Linked DNA regions of Homo sapiens: region 2 is reported to be linked to region 1. Evidence: microRNA targets listed by miRTarBase, many of them from high-throughput screens and not tested one by one. Region 1 holds a microRNA gene; the other region holds the end of a gene's coding sequence.

What was found. The annotated mature microRNA hsa-miR-585-5p reads CUAGCACACAGAUACGCCCAGA and lies in region 1 at 6,137-6,158, shown strand. An mRNA with a match to its seed (bases 2 to 7 or 8) in the 3' UTR can be bound and repressed. Matches are read on the target gene's strand: a 7mer-m8 pairs with bases 2 to 8, a 7mer-A1 pairs with bases 2 to 7 and ends in A, and an 8mer does both.
Region 2: miRTarBase lists CBX6 as a target of hsa-miR-585-5p. Seed matches in the 3' UTR shown: 7mer-A1 at 8,857-8,863.

What each region holds. Positions count from the first base shown.
Region 1 is chr5:169,259,698-169,269,806 of GRCh38, reverse strand. It overlaps MIR585 (microRNA 585), which reads left to right and starts at 6,113; the gene lies at 6,113-6,206. The region is part of intron 1 of SLIT3 (slit guidance ligand 3); the gene reads left to right.
Region 2 is chr22:38,857,003-38,867,111 of GRCh38, forward strand. CBX6 (chromobox 6) reads right to left here. Exons shown (of 5, transcript NM_014292.5): 5 at 4,420-10,109. The coding sequence ends at 9,207. Among named protein-coding and RNA genes, the nearest start is that of CBX6, 10 kb to the right of the region's middle. RefSeq lists enhancers at 2,570-3,449, 7,050-7,929, 7,930-8,807, 8,926-9,737.

The sequences.
Region 1 (10,109 bases):
TGATGAAAGGATGTTTGTCTTCGTTGGGAGTGGACATGAAGTTTTGGTTGGAGAGGCAGTTGGGCCCTTCTCCCTCCCTAATTCCTGCCCCTTGGCATTTTATCAGTGCCACATGGGAGAAGTGGCTTCTGCCTGAATGGGGTTGGTGGTCCCACTCTGGTCCCACTGTCAGACTGCATTCTCTTCCTTTCCAAATCTTCATCACTCTACTGAAGTAGGTCCCCATTCCTCAGCCAAGCTTCCTGACAGCTGCAGTTCATTTTGATCCATGGGAGAGGGTATTACAGATGGGAGAGTTGCCTGAGCAAAGTCATGGGGCTTGGAATGAGCCTGGTGAGTGCAGAGGATCTGCCTGGCTGTTTGGGGACACATTTCTAGGCAGCTGGGGCATTAGTTTGAGGCCTCTCATGTCAGTAAAGGTGGAGAACCATAGAGAGTGGAGGAGCCCAGTGCTAAGCACCTGGCCAAAGACAGCATCAGCTGTGTCTTGGGCCAAGGCCGGTTGCGTGGAGTCAACAAGAGTTGGTATATAAGTCAGAGTGGTTAAGGAGAGGGAGGACCTGCAGTCATTGGATCCAAAGGGTTTACCTCCCTAGTTCTTCCCTGGGTCCTGGAGACATGAAGGTGAACCCCCACAGCCCTTGCCCTTATTGCTTACAGGCTAATAAAGGAGACAAGCTGGGCACCTTCAAGTCCCTGAGAGTTTAGAGCAAAGAGCAGGGAGCTCAGACCATCCAGGCCTGTCCTCCAGAATCATTACTCCGTGGATAATACTTTGAAGATGTGTGAATTGGGGCAAGTTATTTAACCTCTCTGGACCTCACTTTCCCATAAATACTATTTTTGGCTTTCATAATAACATACGATGATGGTGATAATAAGAGTGTCCCCCTTATAGGATTCCTGTAATATTTCAGGGGAGATGAACAGTGCCTGATATGACATGATAAATCAATACGTGGGAAAACCATTATTAATTGTTATTTTTATAGTTTTCCAGCAGTACAACTTTTTAAAAAATTTATAAAATGCTTTGTCTTGCATTGGCTCACTTGAGCATCTCAAAAACCCTCTGAGGTTCTGCAAGTGCTGCTAACCCATTTTGCAGATAAGGGTGGTTTGCCCAAAACACACGAGTAGTAATGAAACTGGGACTGGAGGCCTGATGCTACAGCTGCTGTCCAGTGTTCCTCAACTCCGTGCCCTGTTGCCTTCTCTCATGGATATGGGGGCTGTGTCTGCTCTGTGGGTGATGCCCAGATGTGTAAGAAAGGTTCTCTGCTTTCAAGGAGTTTATATCTCATTCAAATTGGAAGAGCCTTGATCTGGAAATTGGAGAGTTCCGCCTGCAAGTGAGGGCCACTTCTGCTGTCTCCAGCAAGGAAAGACAGGCAGGAAAATGACTGGGAGTCTTATGTGGTGCCATCAGATGACATTCAGAATTTCCTTGGGTCGAACCTGCAGAGACCTGTCTCTGATTTCCTGCGTGTCACTCGGCAAATTCCCTCCATGTGTGAAATGAGCAATGAAGCTAACTCTCTGGTGCATGGTGTTAGCACCAAGTTGCATCACATTCCCCCCTCCGCCACTCCTCCTTCGCAACAGACCTTAACGTTATTCTGTGATTACTTCGCATCATCCTTCCCAAATGTGCATCAAATTAAAGAGTTATTAGGGCATGGCAGGACATGTTTATGGGGAAGAATTTCCTTTAAAGTCACAGCTCAGCCTGAACTCACTTTATTAGTGTTTATACAAAGTATGTAGCCTGTTCCAATGCAGTCCATGTTTATATTCCTGCAGCAATCATTGCATTCCTTGGGCTGTTCCTTCGTTTTCTTAAAGTGATTACTGCACCTATGTTAAAAGTTAATAGTGTATGTGCTCTGTGACTGGTTGGACTTGGGAGGTGGGCACCATTCAGAAAATGACACTTAACCAAGATGTGTCCTGCAAATAGCCATAGACTTAGAAGTGGTCTTCAGCCCAAGTGGACAGGAAGAAGGTCTCCTTAAGAACAAAGACATGGTGGGCAACCAGGCCCCATATGAGTATTTCCATTGTCACCCACTCCTGTTGCCGATATTTTGTGGCTCAAGCTGGGAATGACCATTTGTGTTGATCTGATCTTTGCCTGTTTCTGTGGTATAATTATTAATGACTTCCCCTTTAACTCACAAAAGTATTCAAGTTTGGATAATCATATGGTCATTCCAATTCTAACTGATACCCAGATTTACTGGTATAAGTGAAGTACATCAACTTTAGATCTCAAGCCATTGTCAATTAAGGGCAAATGTAACTCAGTTAAAACTGTCAATAAAGAGCTCAAGTTAACATCAGTCATTCAACAGATATTGATTTGTGCCTTTCATGTGCCAGGTATTGTGCTGAGCCTTAGGGATTCAAACATAAATCAGATATGGCCCTGGAGCCCAGTAAGTTGGAGCTTATTAGTTTAGCTAAACTTTTTGAGTATGTTACTAAAATTCTCTGACCAGGTCATTTCAATTTCTCTTTCACCCTTTAGGACTCTATATTTACTTGCTGCAAGTTGATTGCTAAATTTTCAGCCACTAATCCTTGTTCATTTGGTACTTCTCAGCTTGTGACCATAGACAGGTGTCTTAATCTCCCTGTGCCTCTATTTGTTCAATCATAAAATGGGACTAATAAGTAGCATCAACCTCATAGGCTGGTTGTGAGGATTAAAAAAGGCCCCAAATGTGAAGTGTTTAGCATAGTCCTTGGCACATGGTAAACACTCATTGTAGATTGGCTCCTGCATAGTAAATAGCAGAAAGTTATTTGGACCTTAATGTTGGTTGGGTGCAGCATTTGTACCTCTATTGACCGGAGTTAAGTGGCCTTCTTAAAAACATTGCTTAAGGTAATATGTGTTAGGATCCAAAGCCAGTGAGAATTATTGTGACCCTAGGGGATCAGTTTATTTTCCTCCTTTTAAAGATGAGGAAGGAAAATTTTACAAAGTCATGCTCTGGATTATCATGGATGAAGATCATGGATGCTTAACTTGGGCCATTCTTTCCTACTATGCCGTATTGCTAGGTGTATCAGTTAGCATAGACAAGGCTAAGCTGCAGCAACAAATAAGCCCAGATATATCAGTAACAAAACAATATAAAGCTGTATTTCTTCCTCTTCCTCCCACCCACCCAGTCCAGTAGAGCTGGTCTGGGTGGTGGTAGGTGGCTTATGATCCATATTGTCACTTAGGAACCCAGGCTGCTTTCCTCTGGGGGACCCCTCCATTTATGACACATGATCTCTACATGCCATGAAGACAAGAAAGGGAAGGAGAGTGTCATGCTTGCAGGATGTTTTATAGCCTTGCCTGGAAATGGCACGTATTATTTCCACCCACATTCCTTTTCTTCAGAAATCAGCCACATGGTCCCACTTAGATTCAAAGGGCACAGGAAATTTAATCTTGTTGTTTGCCTAGGAGGAAAATGGAACAGTTTGGTGAACACAGAGCACTATCCTTGCCATACCGTATTCCCTACATTTCTTGCCACATTTCCAAAGGTTGGCCCCAGTCTCTTCTAGGATTTGTTTCCTGCCTCCCGGTGATTGGAGGAGCCATTTTATCATGTGCTCTCCTATGCAGTGCAGGGAAGTGTTTTGAGAACAGGCCTTGCAAGGAGTTTGGAAGGGTTTGAGATTTCTGGGCATGATAAGGGAAATAAAAGGTGAAACTTTTGGACTGATAGTCGCCACCTGGAGGTTAGTGCTGAGAAAAGAATACGTTGCCTTAAGTCATTACAGGAAGAATTTAGGAAGAATTTTTTATTTCTGAGTGTGTTGGCTGGGTTGTCCTCTGTGTGACAGGAAGGAAGCACTGTCTCTGCAGATGCTTTGATGTGCCTGAAGTGGATGAAGGAGATTTGGGGTGGAGCTGTGGATTTGACCAGGTGCACCTTTGTGTTAGAAGCACGGAGGTCCTGCCAACATCATCATCTTACTTGTGCTCACATTTTGCCTGAATAATAATCAGCCAATTGATGGTTACTTCTTGAGTACTTACTGCATGACCAGCCCTGGGCTAGAATCACTTTATACGTATCATCTCATTTAATTCTTGCAGTATCCTAGGAGGTAGGTACTGTGATTATGGCCATTTAAGATGGAGAAACAGAAGCTTAGGGATGAGTTAAATAACCTGCCTAAAATCATGCTCTATTTGCTAAGATTTGAGCCCAGGCTATCTGATTCTAGGGCCTGCCACCTTAAGCGCTATGTTTGGCAGCAGGGATCTCAAACTCTGATGCGAAAAAAGATTAAGCAGGTAACTTGAGTGAGGGAATTGGATCAGGTGGACTGGTGAATTGCAGGCATGTACCTTATGCAAAGTGGGCAATTGCCTCTTAGTACCAGCTTATGATGGCCACTAAAATCCATTGTTATTTGATGGACTGACCTTTGGAGACAAGCCAGAATTGTAGATTTGTATTTGAAATGCTCCCAAATTGGCAATTAATTTGCATATGTGAAAATCACAGTGAGAACCAGACTACGCAGGTCTGCAGGCCAGAACTCACCGGTGGGCTACCAGTTTGCAAGTTCGTCTCTGCTGTTCCCAGTAAAGAGCTAGTTGTACGTTTTGTTTGTTTGTTTGTTTGTTTGTTTTTGAGCATGGAGCTGAACTGAGCAAAACAGGGGCAGGGAGTCCTCCTGGTGCAAGGGATGAAGGAAAAGAGACCCCATGCCCAATACTCCTCTTTACATGCCCTCACCATGACCACATCCAACCACCCGGGTTGCCCCTCTGTTTGGCCCATTCTTCTCCCTGCAGGTAGCTGTCTGCACAGGGCTGGCTGCAAGCTTTTGCAGGTGTAAAATTATATATGCGAGAGTGTTGCCAAGCCAAAAATTTAGCCCAGAGAGGCTTAGTTCCCAAACAACTGAGGTAGTGTGAAGCCAGTTTTTAAAATCAAATTCAGCTCATTTCTTTCCCAAATGCGTGTATGTTTTTAAACTTGCATGTGGTTATGTAACAGATGAGAACGAAGTGCAAAAATCAGAATAGTTAATAATGCCTCCTGTGGTGTGAGTCTGGAGAGGTAAAGCATGAGATGGGAGCCCTATAAGGGTGGCCCAAAGGGAAACACTGCTCTCCTTGACCTGGTAGGAAGGTGATTTGATGGTTTTCAAACACATGCTGTTTCTCTCTTTCATCAGGGTAGCTGGGTGGGTGGCATTAGGTCCTTTGGACTGGGGAGAGGAGACAGAGGAAGACACCCATTAGGACCGCCTGATGTGAGCAGTTTCAGAGGTCTGCCCTTGGGCTCATCAAAAAGCATCTTCCGGCCAGGCACGGTGGCTCACGCCTGTAATTCCAGCACTTTGAGAGGCTGAGGTGGGTTTGAGGTCAGGAGTTTGAGACCAGCCTGGCCAACATGGTGAAACCCTATCTCTACTAAAATTAGCCAGGCATGGTGGTACATGCATGTAATCCCAGCTACTCGGGAGGCTGAGGCAGGAGAATCCCTTGAACCCAGGAGGTGGAGGTTGCAGTGAGCCGAGATTGCACCACTACACTCCAGACTGGGAGACAGAGCGAGACTCTGTCTCAAAAAACAACCCCCAAAACCAAAAAGCATCTTCCTTTGGCTAAATGGCTAAAATTCCAGAGTCTTGAATGGCTTAAACTCTGCATGGTCACTTTATCTATGGGGAGAGTCTTAGGTTAACTGGACTCCTTTTTTCAGTGGTTTTTTTTGGAAGGTAGGAGGTATATTGAATAATACATGTTTACTCCAGAAAACATTGATAATACTGATAAGCAAAATGTAAAATGTTTAAAAAAAAAAAACCCCGTTTCTCCACCCCGAGAAACCTAGTGTACATTTTTCTGAGTGTCTCCATGAGGCCTTCATCCAAGGTGTCTGGAGGAAGTTGGGGAGTATCCTCTTCAAGGTCCTTTGGGAGACAAGGCAGACACACAGGAAACAGGCAGCAGCAAGGCAACGTGATGAAAGACCAAAATGAGTTGTGCAGAGAGAGGGTAAATGATCCAGAAGTTCAGAAGTTCAGGGAAGGGAGAAGCCAGCACGAGATGGAGCAGCTGGGGGAGGCTGCAGGGGGAGTGTGGGGTGTCTGTGCTATGGCAGCCCTAGCACACAGATACGCCCAGAGAAAGCCTGAACGTTGGGCGTATCTGTATGCTAGGGCTGCTGTAACAATGTACCACAAACTGGGTGCCTTACAACAGCAATCATCCTTTCAGACTTCTGGAGCCTCGCAATCTGAAATTGAGGTGTCATCAGGGCCAGGCTCCTTCTGAAATCTGCAGGGGAGGGCCCTTCCTTGCTCCTTCCTGGCTCCTGGGCTTGCCAGCAGCCCTTGGCATTCCTTGGTTTGTAACTGCATCACTCCAGTCTCTGCCTCTGTTGTCACACGGCACTATACCTGCATGTCTGTCTCGTCGTCTTTTTATTATTTTTCAGAGACAGGGTCTTGCTCTGTCACTCTGGCTGGAGCAGTGCAATCATAGCTCACTGCAGCCTCTGCCCCCCTGGGCTTAAACAATCCTGCCACCTCAGCCTCCTGAGTATCTGGGACTATAGGCAAGTACCACCATGCCTGGCTGGTTTTCTCTTTTGTAGAAATAGGGTCTTGCTATGTTGCCCAGGCTGGTCTCAAACTCCCTTCTGGCCTCAAGTAATCCTTCTGCATCAGCCTCCCAAAGTGCTGGGATTATAGGTGTGAGCCACTTTGCTCAGCCCTGTCTCCTCTTCTAATAAGGACACCAGTCCTATTGGATTAGGGTCCACCCTAATGACCTCAATTTAACCTGATTACATCTGCAAAGACCCTACTTTCAAATACGATCACACTCATAGGTAGCTGGGGTTAGGACTTCAATATATCTTTTGAGGCACACAATTCAGCCCATAACAGAGCAGTAGGATTTAAATGGACGCAGGACTTTGAGGGCTTCTGAGGCCAGCATACAGACAGCAGGAACATATGTGCCAATGAAGTGCCTAGCACAGTTCCTGGATCTGATAGGTGCTCAATACATGTCTGTGGCTATAAAGAAGAAAGAATTAAATGAGGCAAGCTGAGGGCAGTAATGAGAACCCCCTTCTTATTGAGCTGTGGAATGAAATTGACATTTGGGGGAAATTAATCTGGCAGGATTGATGGCAGGGGAATGAGGCTGAGGGCTCTTAAATTGGTGGTTTCCTTGCTCGGCCCCTTTTATGGTTCCAGTCCCCAAGCATGTTGTCAGCCCCATAGATGCCTCACAGCCTGGACACCACCTGCCTCTGTGATCCCATTTGGTGTCACTCTGCTGCCGTCACCTGGACCTTTTTGTTTCCATTCTTCCACCTGGAAACGTCTCCCTTCAGCCTGTCCTTCAACTGGATCCTTCTTTTCCTTCTAGTCTCAGACCAAATCTCACTCTCTAAGAGAGGTTCTTCCTGGACACCCTAGGGAGGGCAGTGCCTTCACTGCCTCTCACCATATCTTTATTCTCTTCACCTCACCCTGTACTGTTTCCTAGCTATGCCCATATTGCAGTCTGTAGTCTCCTTGTTTATTTGTGGTGGCCTATCTCCCCCTGTGTTTTTTATTGTCATATAATGATAGCAAACTTCGTGGCTTAAAACAACAGGCATTCAGCACCTTCCATTTGTCTCGGCCCTCTGCTTCAGGGTTTCATAAGGCTGCACACAAGGGTTTGGTTGAGGTTGTGATCTCATCTCAAGGCTCAACTGGAGAAGGACCTGCTTCCAAGCTCTCAAGGTTATTGGGATAATTCAGTTCCTTGCAGTCTATTAGAAGGCTTCAGGTTCCTGCTGGTTGTCTTGAATTCTTGGTTGGTTGTGGGTAGAGGCTGCCTCCAGTTCCTTGGCATGTGGGCCTCCCAAACATGGCCACCTGCTTCATCACAGCCAGCAAGAGAAAGAGTCCTATAGCAAGACGGGCATTGCCGTCCCATGTAACATGTCACAAAGGTGACATCCGACCACCTTTTTTGTGTTGCATGGGTTAGAAGCAGGTCTCTAGGTTCTGCCCACTCAAGGAGAGGGGAAGGTGTTGATACTGGGGACCACCTTAGAATCTGTCTGCGGCATTCAGCAAAGAAATAAAAGTTCCTTAAAAGGAACTTCTTTGCTATTGTTTTACTGTCTATCCTTAGCCATCAGCATAGTGCCAGGTCTGGAGTAGGTGTTTAATAAAAGTTTGTTGTAGGAAGAAAAGAAGCAAGGAAAGGAGGGAGGGATTTTAAAAAAAGGAAAGGAGATGGGGAGGGAAGGAAGGAAGGAATTAAGGAAAGGAGAGAGAGGGAGGAAAGGAAAGAAGAAAATAAGGAAAGAAAAGAAGAAAGAAGGAAGGGAAGAAAGATCTGTGTTTCTCTTGAAACATGCTTTAACAGCCAAATAAATCTGCTGGCAGTTATCCTGAGGCAATGCCTCTGGGCTTTTATACATGCTGGGGTTTTTTTTTGTTTTTTGTTTTTAAACCTAAAATTCTTTTTCTCTCTCTTGAATATTCCTATGCCAACCTGAATATAGCCAACTCTTTCTTGAGGTCTCAATTAAAATGTCACCTGTTCCTGGATGCCTCCCCCGACCCTACACCCCAATTACTCCATACTCCTTCCTCCATACTCTTCTGTAAGCTTTTGTTTATGCCTCTGGCATAGTAGAGAGCAGGAGTCTATAAACGACAGCCCCTGGGCCAAATCCAGCCTTCAGTCTGTCTTCGTAAATAAAGTTTTATTGGCACACAGCCATACTCATTTATTTATATATTGTCTAAGGCTACTCTCACACTACAAAGCTGAGTTGAATAGTTGTGATAGAAAACATGACTGGCAGAACCCAAATTATTTACTATCTGGCCTTTAAAGAAAAAGGTTGCCAACCTATGGTATACAGCGTTTATCATAGTCTATGGTAATTACTCCTTTATTTCTTCCTCTCTAAACTCTGAGTTTCTTATGGGCAGAGACCACGCCACTATTGTTTATAGCTATATACCAGCATTTAGCACAATTCCTGAAACTTAATGATGAAGACTTGTTGAATGAATGAATGAATGGTGTATCAGTAAGAAATAGAAAACAGGTAGAAAATTCAAATTAGGAATATTCCAGGAGAGTTGATTTATTTACACAGGGATCATTTCAGAGGTGTGGGTATGTTTCAGAGAGATACTGTAGAACCCAAGACCATAGAAGCAATGGAGCAATTATCACCTCTAAGCCAGAAGAAATAGGAAGAAAAGTGTCCTGGAACCAAGAAATGGACAGTCATAAAGACGAACTGTAACCTTTGTTGGCAAAACTAGCTAACGTGGGTGAGCTCTCAGGGAGGACGAATACCCCGTCCTCGGTCTGATCCTTCCTGCATCCCCTGCTTAGCTCATAGGGAAGAGAAAAAGCACAGAACCTTGCCCTTTCTGTGATGTGGCCCATTCAGGTGGAAAGCGTAGTGAGTGCATAACTGAAACTGAGGCCACTGCTTCCTTGCCAACTTGTTCTGATTTGGTTGGAACCTCTTTGCTGGTGGTAAATGAAGGGTCAGGAAGTGCTATGGGGGCCTCTTAATTCTGGCTCCTCTTACCCCTTTCCTGAGTAGGAGTCCTCAAATCACACTATGGGATTTTTTTTTTTAAAGTTGTTTATTTTTTTTAAGACTACTCAAGTGCAGTTGTGAGAAGGAGGGGAAAGAGTAGAACAACTACTTCAATCTGTAACTGAGTGAACAATCCATTGAGATAGCTATGCTGTGGGAACTTGAATGTGGAGGCGTCACACATTGAAAGGTTTATTCAGGAGCAGGAGGTCTTCTCTCTGACTTCCTGCTTGTCTACTCCCCTTGGTGTTTAGACCACATCCCTTAACGTTTCATTTTGCAAATTCTTGCCTTGTTCTCTAAGAATCTCCTGAGTCTTAGCTCATCCTCAGCTAGACTCCAGGCTCCTTGAAAACAAGGACCAAGCTATATTTCATTTTCTAAAAATTCATTTGGCTCTGGGCTCCCAAAAGATGACAATTACAGAGTTATTGACAGGACTCCATAGGTCATGTAGTTCAGCCTCCTACCCATCACAAGGATCTCCTAGACATC
Region 2 (10,109 bases), not on the chromosome of region 1:
CCTGACCTCAGGTGATCTGCCCACCTTGGCCTCCCGAAGTGCTGGGATTACAGGCATGAGCCATTGTGCCTGGCAGTTTTAGGACATCTTCAATGCATGTTTGAAAATAACGTGTTGGGTGCAGGATTCTGTATGTACTGTTGGTTGTTTTGCTATTTGTCTTTGTGGCTTGCGTGTTTTTGTAATTTTGGATAGTGAGCTCACATTTACAATGGTTTTATCTGTGAGAATCCTGTGTGGCCTTTACTGTGGGTAGGGCTATCCACAGAGGCTTGCATTTGCTACTAGTAGCCACATGTCTGTGGTGTAACTCGCCCCAGGTTTTTTTCTTATATTAATTTCTATACTTGGGAGTCCTGGGACCATATGGGTAATACAAATTCAAACCTCAAATGTGTGTTAGTGAAGGTCTAGAGTTAAAATTTCTCAAGAGATCATTCTTTTCAAATTTTTTCCAGCCGAGCCAGAAATGAGACTACAACTTTTTTGTCTTTTCCCTTTGTGAAAGGGTGATTTTTCCCCACCATTTGCTTTTTTCATTGAGGATATGGGTCCAGTTTTATTCTGGTTCCAAATTTCTGCTGGCAAGGGTCCCAGGCCTTGTCTCCTATCCCTCCCTCCACAGGTATAAAATCCAAGCTCCTTTGGTTACCAACATTAGCAAAAGCCACCACCTCCCACGCCCATCTCCTGCCTCCCTTTGCCACCCATAGGCCCACCCTGTAGGACAGCCAAAGAATAAACACCTGCTTGTCACTGTGATTTTTGGCTTTTCTCTTTGTTTTTGGTCCCTGGGGATTTTTTTTTTTTTTTTAATCTCGGAAACTCAGTTGGGTATTTGAAAGAATGTTTATGTTTTACCCAGTCTTTAAGTATAGACAGAAGGTTAGCAGGACAGAAGGTTCTATCTTTTCATGCCTCAGACCTGGGTTCCATTCTCTCTGCCTCTGAGTGATTTTGCAGAGCATCCCCACCCTACAACTCTCAGGCCTCGCCTTGCACCTATCCAATGGGGTTAATCATTCCCCAGCCTCACCTCATGGGGGCTGCTCATGGAGATAAAAGGTATGAGATTGATGGGGTAGAGGCGGGCGGCAAGGGGCTGGACATTAACCCCTGGAATTTCCAGTGGCTTCCAGAGCTAAGCACCTATGTCCGTGGTGGTGCTTCCAGGATGGCTGGTGACCAGTCATCTCAGAGATGAGGTGCACTAAGGGACAAAGACCCTTCAGCAGATTTGTCCAGCAGTGCCTGGGTGGGCAGGAGCTCGCTCTGAGCCTCAAATCCATAGATGAAAATCCCTCCAGGACCCTATGGCTGATTTACTCCCAATGTGTCCCTGGAAGCTGTGTCCTCCACCAGGTTCTCCACCTGAGAAGAATGCACTCACTCACTCCTCTGCCTATACCACATACCCAGGTGCTTCTTCGAAAAGGCTTTTATACAAGCTCTCAAAGGCAGTCCCTCACCAAATTCTAAATATTCCAAACATCCCATCCACTCTGGCCACTTTCTGTTGTCCCCACTGCCTCAGGCCTCATTATCCTCGCCAGGGTCATTTCGAGTCTCGCCCTGGAGTGGCCTCTGTCCCTCCTGGGACTCCCTCCTGAGCTCACAGCTTCCCTGGCTGATGCTCAGCGCGTGTGGATGTCTGGAGGCCAGGACGGGGCCTCCCCCTGCTGCTTCCTTTGTGACCCCACCGCTGTGGATCAGGTGTCCTTGTGCTCGGCCTCTGCAGGCCACCAGGCCTTTTTGAAGTCTGTCCTCCCAGAAGCCAGCAGCCTGAACAAAGAGGGCACAGAATCAGCTCGCAGACCTGTTAGCTGGCTTGGGGGGGGGCTGGGCAATTTGATGTGGCCTCTGTCACCTCCCTATTCACTCCAGGCATGGCTTGACATGGACCAAAAAATTTCAACTTTTAGCTTTTAAAAAGCAACCAAGGGCTGGGCATGGTAGTTCATGCCTGTAATCCCAGCACTTTGGGAGGCTAAGGCAGGTGGATCACGAGGTCAGGAGTTCAAGACCAGCCTGGCCAACATGGTGAAACCCCGTCTCTACTAAAAATACAAAAATTAGCTGGGCGTGGTGGCATGTGTCTGTAATCCCAGCTCCTCGGGAGACTGAGGCAGGAGAATTGCTTGAACCCAGACCCAGGAGGCGGAGGTTTCAGTGAGCCAAGGTTGCACCCCTGCACTCCAGCCTGGACTACAGAGCAAGACTCTGTCACAAACAAACAAACGTAACCAGGTAATTTTGCAAAAATAGTCATCCACATCCCATCCCATCCCCCTACTCCTTGGCTTGCCCCACCCCTGAGCTTCATCCCACCGCTGACCCTTAACCCTGGGAGGAGGCCCAGGAATAGGACAAGGAAGGGGTGGGGGCCAGGCAGGCACCCCCCTCTCTAAGCCGAGTCAGCTCGCTCTCGGGCAATTGCTTGGTATTGCCCAGTCCTCTTCACAAACTGTTCAGTTCCTCGAGAAGTTGCCACAGCCTCCTCACTCATTAACCCTCAACTAATAAGGAGACTTACCTGCTTAGCAATGGCAGGACTTGTGATCAGGAACACGGTGACTAATTTCGGCCTGCACTTGCCTCACATGGGCTGCCCCATGTCCTCATTCCCAAGAGCTTGGGGTTCAGGGGCAAACAGATGGGGCTGGGGTGAATGCCGACTCCCCTGCTCCAATTGTGCCCCCTTGGACAAATGAACAAGTTAATGACTTCGCCTCTCTGGCCTCCTCTTCCCCATGACATCTGCTCATAACTCATGGGCTCGCTGGGCACGGGTTAGGGACATGGGCTAGGGCCAGTGACGTGCTCACCAGGGCTTGGCCGATAGTAGGTGCGCTAATAATTTGGGGTTCAAAAAAATAAGTACGAATGAGGGCTTTCTGGGAGTAGAACACCAAGGCAGGTGCTCAAGATGACAAGGAGGTGGCCGTGAGGTGCAGCAGTGGCACTGAGCAGGACCAGCCCTGGCTTACTGGCTGGCCTCCCCTGCCCTGTGGGTGCTTCACTGTGGGTCCCTTCCCACCTGCCTGCCCAGTGGCAGCCCCGTATCCGGGACAGGGACACACTCCCATTTGTCCTGCTGGCCCCTGCCTGGCCCAGGCCAGGCCCACTGGTAATGCTCAGAGGCAGTTGGTTGATTGCACTGAGCCCCAGGTCTACCTCTCAGCCGCTCCCAAGCCTCACTGTCCCAGCCAGCATAGGAAGAGGACTGAGCTTGGTGACGGAGATGATCTGGGCCTACCATGTGCCAGACACTGAGGTGTGGGCAGAGAGGGGATGAAGACCCAGCCCTGTCCTTAGGAAGGGGGAAGGACAAAACCGCAGGTCAATACCGAGGGAGGAGACAGGGCAGGGCCCGGGAGGGCAGGTGGCAGGGGAGGGGCTTCAGGCAAAGGGAGGCAAGGAGGAGGGGGGCGGGGAGGTGGAGGCTAGGGGAGACTTTGCACCTCAGCCATTTGCAGATGGCACACAGGCTGTGTTGAGCTGTGGGGGCTCTGGGCATTGCAGCCTGGAAATTAACAGCAGGGTCTGTCTGCATTGAATATCCCCAGCGCCGGGACCAGGCATGACAAGGAACTAGATCACACTCCTGCCTGCCTAGAGGCCGTGGCGCTGGGGCGGTAGCCTCCCTGACCCCTATGGCACTGGTGTGGAAGACACAGGGGGCAGGTGCAGGCCAGGATGGAGACTGGTGGACCAGGCCAGAGCCGCTGCCAAAGCAGAAGCGCTCAGGACCCCAGGCTGCAGGGCGGGGAGATACTAGAGAGGCCAGACAGGAGGTGGGGTGGTGAGGAAGGGGAGACCAGAGCGCTACCTGTCCGAGGCCTGGCAAACAGGTGGCCACGGGAGTCATCGGGAGCTTGCAGGTGGAACGCCAGGCACCTGGGGAAGGCATGGAAGTTTGCCTGGGGCTGCTGCTTTTAAGCCCACCTATGTGGGGAGAGGGTGCGTCACCTCAAGAGAGAAGGCACATGGCACCCAGAAAACAAACTCGAAGACCACCATTCTCATTATCCGAATGTGATATCGGACTTTATGGCACGGTTGGGTGCCAAACTGTAGGACCCAATGGCAAGAGCAGCTGGTGCCCCATTCCGGCCTGCTCCCTTCTGGGCTTTGGGGCCACAACCCCAGAGGCCCCTTCCTCTCTGCGGGTGCTGTGATTCCCACTGAGGGACAGGCAGTGATGAGACCTCCATCCTCCCACTCTCACCTACCCGTTATTCTCAAGGGTCCAAGAAGCAGCAGGCATCTCTTTTTCCCACTGAGGCACATGTGAGCTGGGGGAGTGTGGGAGATAGGAACCGGGAAGCAAGTGAGTGCCAGCGGTGGGACAGGGCTTCCCCCTCTTCACCTGTCACTGGAGGGACATGGGCCTGCTACTTTTGAAAAGCCAGTCACAGCTGGAAGAAGACACAGACACACCCCAACCTAGGGGCTAGGCCTCAGCTTCGGAATGTGACAATTTATTTGGGGGGTAAAAGAGGCTTTTCACCCCCCTTTCCTGGCGTTGATACAATATTGAAGAGCAGCAGAACAAACGTACAAGACAGAGTAATCGGCACAGACCCACCCCTCCCCCGGAACCGCCGAATCCAGAATGGAGCCCAAACCCACACCCCCAACTAAGCGTCTTCTCCACAGGGGGAGGGGCAGGGTGGACTGGGGGACCTGCCCCCCATGCTGGGGCGGCACCTCCGTTTTCCATCTCCTGCCAACCCCACTCTTTTCCCATCTTTGACCACTGGAGGCAAAGTTTAGCCAGCTGGGAGCTGGATGGTTGAACCACATACAAAGGCAACAACACTTCATTTTAAAAATGAGAGAAAAAAGAGACAGTGCCCCTCCCCAAATATAGAGCTATATATGTATATTTTATATATATAGAATTCATTCGTGCACAATTCATTAAATGAACGTCTCAAAAATTAAAAAAATTATAAGATACGTATTTCTTTAGGCCTTTGTGTTTTTAAATTAAAACCAACAAAAAGAAGTCTCCCTCTCCACTCCACCCAGCAGCAAGGGCAGCCGGAACGCTTCGCTCCAGCTACCCGGCCTCCCGCAAGAGGGTTCCCCCATGAGACCGTTAGTCTCTCTTTGCCTGGCTGACTACCTGCATACAGTAGGCACTCACTGCTGGAGTGAGGCACTGACTCCTCCAAAGATTGCAGGGGGCGGAGGAGGGAACCACGAAGGCCTGGGAGGGGGCATCTTTGGCCCCCACTAACCATCTCCCTATTTCTGCATCCTGGTGACCGTCAGCAAGAGATGAGTCGGGGAGACCCTCTCCTGGAGTTCTAGCCCCTAATTCTGGGCTTTCTATATGAGAGGACATGCAGATAGGGAAGAAACTAAAACCTTTCAATGTCTTCCTTTTTTCTTTAAAAGTGTTTCCTCAAACCATCCCCGTCCCAAAGAGGCCGCCTTGGGCAAGTGCATGGGAGCCCGGAAGTGGAACTGACCAGGTGGGGCTCCACTGTCCTGTGTGGGCGAAGTGCAAAAAAAAAAAAAAAAAAAAAAAAAAAGAAAGAAAGAAAAAAGAAAAACAAAAGAAAAAAGAAAAACCACCACAAACCAAAACAACAAAATGACACAGAAGAGTGGGCAAAAGGGGGATGTGTCCTCTTGGGTCCCCATAGGCCAGAGAGGCTGGTAGCAGTCCAGCCCCCTGGCCAACCCAGCTCCCTGTTGGGGCTGACCCTCCAGCCTTGGGCGGGCCCACCGGCCTGGCTCTCCTCCAGGACCTCCTGGCTCAGGGGCTCGAGGCCAGTCTTGTGCTGGCTCCAGGGCCTGGGCCCTGCCTTTTAAAGGGCTTTTCCCCATAGGCCAAAGCATCCTGGGCCCCAGTCCCTGCCGCATTCCCCCAGTGAAGCAGCTGCGCTTCTCCAAAACCATTTTCACCTCTTCAAAAAGGGGCCATCCCCCCAACTCTGTCCACCTCACACTGAAGTTGGGGACTTGATCATCACCTCTTCCCAGATCATAGGAAGGATGAGGCTCATTTTGACCTTGACCCCTTTGCAGGGTGAGAACAAAGAGGGGTTGTGGGCAGCTGGGGGCCCCAGTACCAGCAACCTTGACCCCCCACCTGGTACTGGGCAGCTGCTCTGACACCAGCAGCGCTTTCTGAAGAGGGCTTGCTACCCAATACACCCATTTCACAGAAGGGCAAACTAAAGGTCAGAGTGGGCACCCAGACAGGGATGGGTCCCAACTTACCGTCTCAAACCAGAGACACCAGACCTCACCGGTTTCCTATGATACTTGGGTGGGGAGGGGGCGCACTTAAGGGGAGATGACGGATGCCCCAACCAATATTGAACGTAGGAGGAGATTGGGCTTTGGGGGTTATTTCACATACAAAAATAAAGCAAACCAGATTGCAACTTCTGCTTGGTAATTAGGCAAATGGAAAGCAGCAAGGGTGGACGAGGGGCCCATGGAGGCTGATCTCCCAAGGGAGGCCGATCCGTGCAAGTGTGTGGGAGGCGGGGGTACTAGAGAGGGGAGGAAGGAGGCTCCACTCACCCTCGGTCCCATCCACTCGGGCCCCCATGGGCACTGCCCACCTCAAGGCGGTGTGCCTGGTGCCTCTTCATGCACCAAGGCTGGCCCGGGCTGCTCCACTTGGAGCTCAGGCCAGCAGAAGCAGACCACCTGTGGCAAGGGAAATGCATTCCCTCTCCCCAGCCACCCCCAGGGGCCCAGCTTCTTGCCTCCTGAAGCCTGCATCCCCTTTCAGGCCAGGGAGGCTCAGAGAGGTTGTGGGCTTTAGGGTGACCCGTGGGGAGGGAGGTCTCCCCCATAGGGTGGCGGTGGTGGGGACCAGATGGCCCAACAACTGGGAAAGGAACAGAAGGGGGCAAGAAACCAAACTGCCCACTCACCAGCCCCCTGGAGAAAATCACCAGTGACAACCCCCACCCTCCCAAACCTCAGCTTGCCGGGACCTGCAGCTTGGGTTAGCTCCCGGGGGCCCGCTGTTGTCCTTCCCTTTGAGCAAGCACGGGTGTGGAGATCTGGGTCCAGGCCCTCTCCACAGTGCCTGCGATGCCAGGGGACCTGCCAGCTGGGCCCAGGCCTCCGCCCCATCCTGACATTGCCACCTCACCTGTGCAATCACTGCGTTACTATTTTTTCTTAAATAGCTCTTTCTCCCCCGCCACCCCCCCATAGGAATCCCACAATATTTTTTTCTATTTCTTTTTTTTTTCCTCTTTTTTTGTTTTTGTTTTTTTGCAAAACTAATTCTTTCACTTTCCTGTCATAAAATCACCTCTGAAAACACAACTTCTTTACAAAAAAGTCACGAATGACACGAACTCTCAGGAAAACACATTTCTATGGTCTCTGGAAACACCTGTAACTGGCACCCAGGTGGTCACTCACCTGGGGGAGGGGGTCAGGGGGAAATCACCTCCAAGGACAGAGGAGAAATACCAGCCCTTATTTGGGCGAAAAGCCAATTGGCACTTGGACGGCCACAAAGCCAACACACAGGGCAGGGTAGGGAGGGGCCGAGGAGTATCAGCCCCCGCCCCAACCCTGCGAGGGTCCCCGTTCTACATCCCGGGGAGGGGAGGGCTAGGGCCACGCTGTGGGCCCTGGCAGGGAGATTGGGAAGGAAGGCAGCCTCCCATTCTTAGGACCAAAGGCGCTAGGGTTCTGATCGGCCTCCTGCCAACGTGCTTCTGAGGGAGGGGCCCATGGCAGCACAGCCAGGAAGCCAGCTCCAGCCACGCCTGGAACACGCCACCCACGCACAATGGAGACCCGGGAAGTGGCCCAGGGCTGGCCAGCGGGGCCCCGGTCCCAATTCTGGGACCAACACCCTCATTCTCCTGGAGAACACAGACCCTCTGGTCTCCCCTTTGCCTGCCTGCCCTCCCAGGGCCTGGCCTAAGGCTGGGGCTGTGGCCTCTGCCACTGGCACGGGTGCCTCAGCTCCCAGGCAGCAGAGGGAAACAGAAGCTGCCCAGGACACGGGAGCCTCCTTTGCTTCAGGCAGGCTGGGCTGTGAGAAAGCCTCCGTGGTCAGAAGCAAAAGAGGGGCTGGGACAAGCCGGGAGGCCCTCGGGAATGGATTCTTCAGCATCCTCCCCAAACACCCGGAGGAAGAGGGAGCTTGGAATGGGGTCTCCCTCTCTATCTCGGTCCCCACCATGATGTGAAGTGAAGGTCCGACAGGTTGGGCTGACCACCCTGAGGAGGGCAGGGGGGTGGGGGGCACGGTGCCCCCAGCACACCTGGGCCAGGAGGGGAGGCCTGGTGACTTCCACAGCAAACCTCCAGACCCAAGCCTGGTCCCCAGGCCTACTGAGGCGAGAGGCAGTCCAGGCCTTCAATGCCCCTGTTCAAAGGAACTGTAAAGGGTGCCACCCGGCAGCCTGGGGCCTAGCACCCAATGCATGTATGAACCCACGGACAAACACAGCGAGTGGGGCAGACGCACAACTGGAAGTTTCCACGGCAGGTTCTCGTAGCACCTTTGGTCAAGAACTGAAGGGGCCTTTAGATGCGGGGAGGCTGTGGCCAGGCGCACCCTCTGCCAGTTCCTCCCACCGTTGAGGGGGTTAGGAAAGAGCCAGGGCTGGGGCAGGGCATAGGGGGTCTACTTAGGCCTCGTCCAAAATCGAGCAGGGAAGACCCCGCCCTGGCCCAACTTCTGATGCCCTGGCTGATGTGGAGGGAGGAGCCGAGTCAGGCCTCATCCTTGGCCTCTGCCTGGGACTTTGCCAAACAGGCAGGAAGCCCTCCTCCTGCCTAGGCATCTGCAGGAAGGAAAGGGACTGTGTCCACCCTCGGTGGGGGGCTCCTAAGGGCCCCACAGCTGCCAGGTTAGCACCGAGAAATCAGACGCCGCACAGGAGAGCAGGAAGCAAGCTAGAGAGACAGGTGGGATGTGGAAGGGGCAGAGGAACCCTAGTTTCTAGGGCTTTCCAGAAACCACCCAGTGGGCTACCATGCATGGGCAGGGGGTGTGCCCTTCCCCTGCCCCATTCCAGGGTGGCCCCTACCCCCGGCTTTCTGGGACCCCAACTACCCAGCCCCATCCCTGGGTCAACACCGAGCCATTTGAGACAAGCAAAGCACAGGGAGAGAGGGCTGGGGGCAAGGGTGGGGTGGGAGCAAGAGTATGACTTCGGGCAGGAGGGCCCCCCCAAGCCCCCCTCCTTGGTGGAGCCCCCTCACTTGCTCGCCCCAATGCTGCCACCGCCCCCAGCGGCGCCTGCTACCCCAGCAGCCACCTTCTCGAAATCCTCAGGGTTGCAGAATTCCTTGATTGTGACCGTCAGGAGGTTGCTGGTGACATCGGTGACGACCACATTGGAGCAGGGTGACATCTCGGGGCGCCAGTCCCCAGCCTCGGGCTCGGAGGAGGCACCGGCGGGCTCAGGGGCCGTGGGAGGTGCCGGGCCGGCAGCAGCTGTGACCTCAGGCGGTGCCCGCTTGCTGGTGGCTGCCGACTCGGGAGGGAGGGACAGGTCGAGCACCTCCGGCTCGCGCCAGCTGGGGGCGGATGGGCTCACGGTCTCGGGGAGGAGCTTGGGGGGCGTGTCGTCGGGGTCAGAGGACTGTGGTGTAGGCGAGGGGCAGCCGGAGGAGCCAGAGCTGCGGGCGTCGTAGGGGGCGGCGGGGGCGGCCAGAAGTAGCCCAGGGCCCGGGGCTGAGGCCTCAGCCTTGCCGGGGGACGGGGCTACCAGGGGGGCGGGCGGAGGCTTGTACAGCGCAAAGGCGCCGAACTTCATGTGGCGGATCTGTGTACGCAGGACGCTCTCGCTGAACTTCTTGCTCTTGCCTATAACGCGGTTCCGCGAGGGGACTTTGGGGCGGGCCAGCGCCCCGGCCCCCTGCCCGGCGCCCCCGCCGCCAGCGCCCTTGTCGATCACCTTCAGGTTCAGGATGATGCGGTTCCGCTTGGGCTCCCGCGGCTTCACCTTGCGGTTGATGATGCGCACCGTCTCCGAGAAGGGCGAAATGGGCGGGCGCAGTCCGGGGCTGCCCCCCTGCGGGTCCGGGCGGGGCAGGGGACGGCGGGACATACGGTGGCAGCGGCGGATGTCCTTCTTGAGCCGGTGCACGGCTGCGCT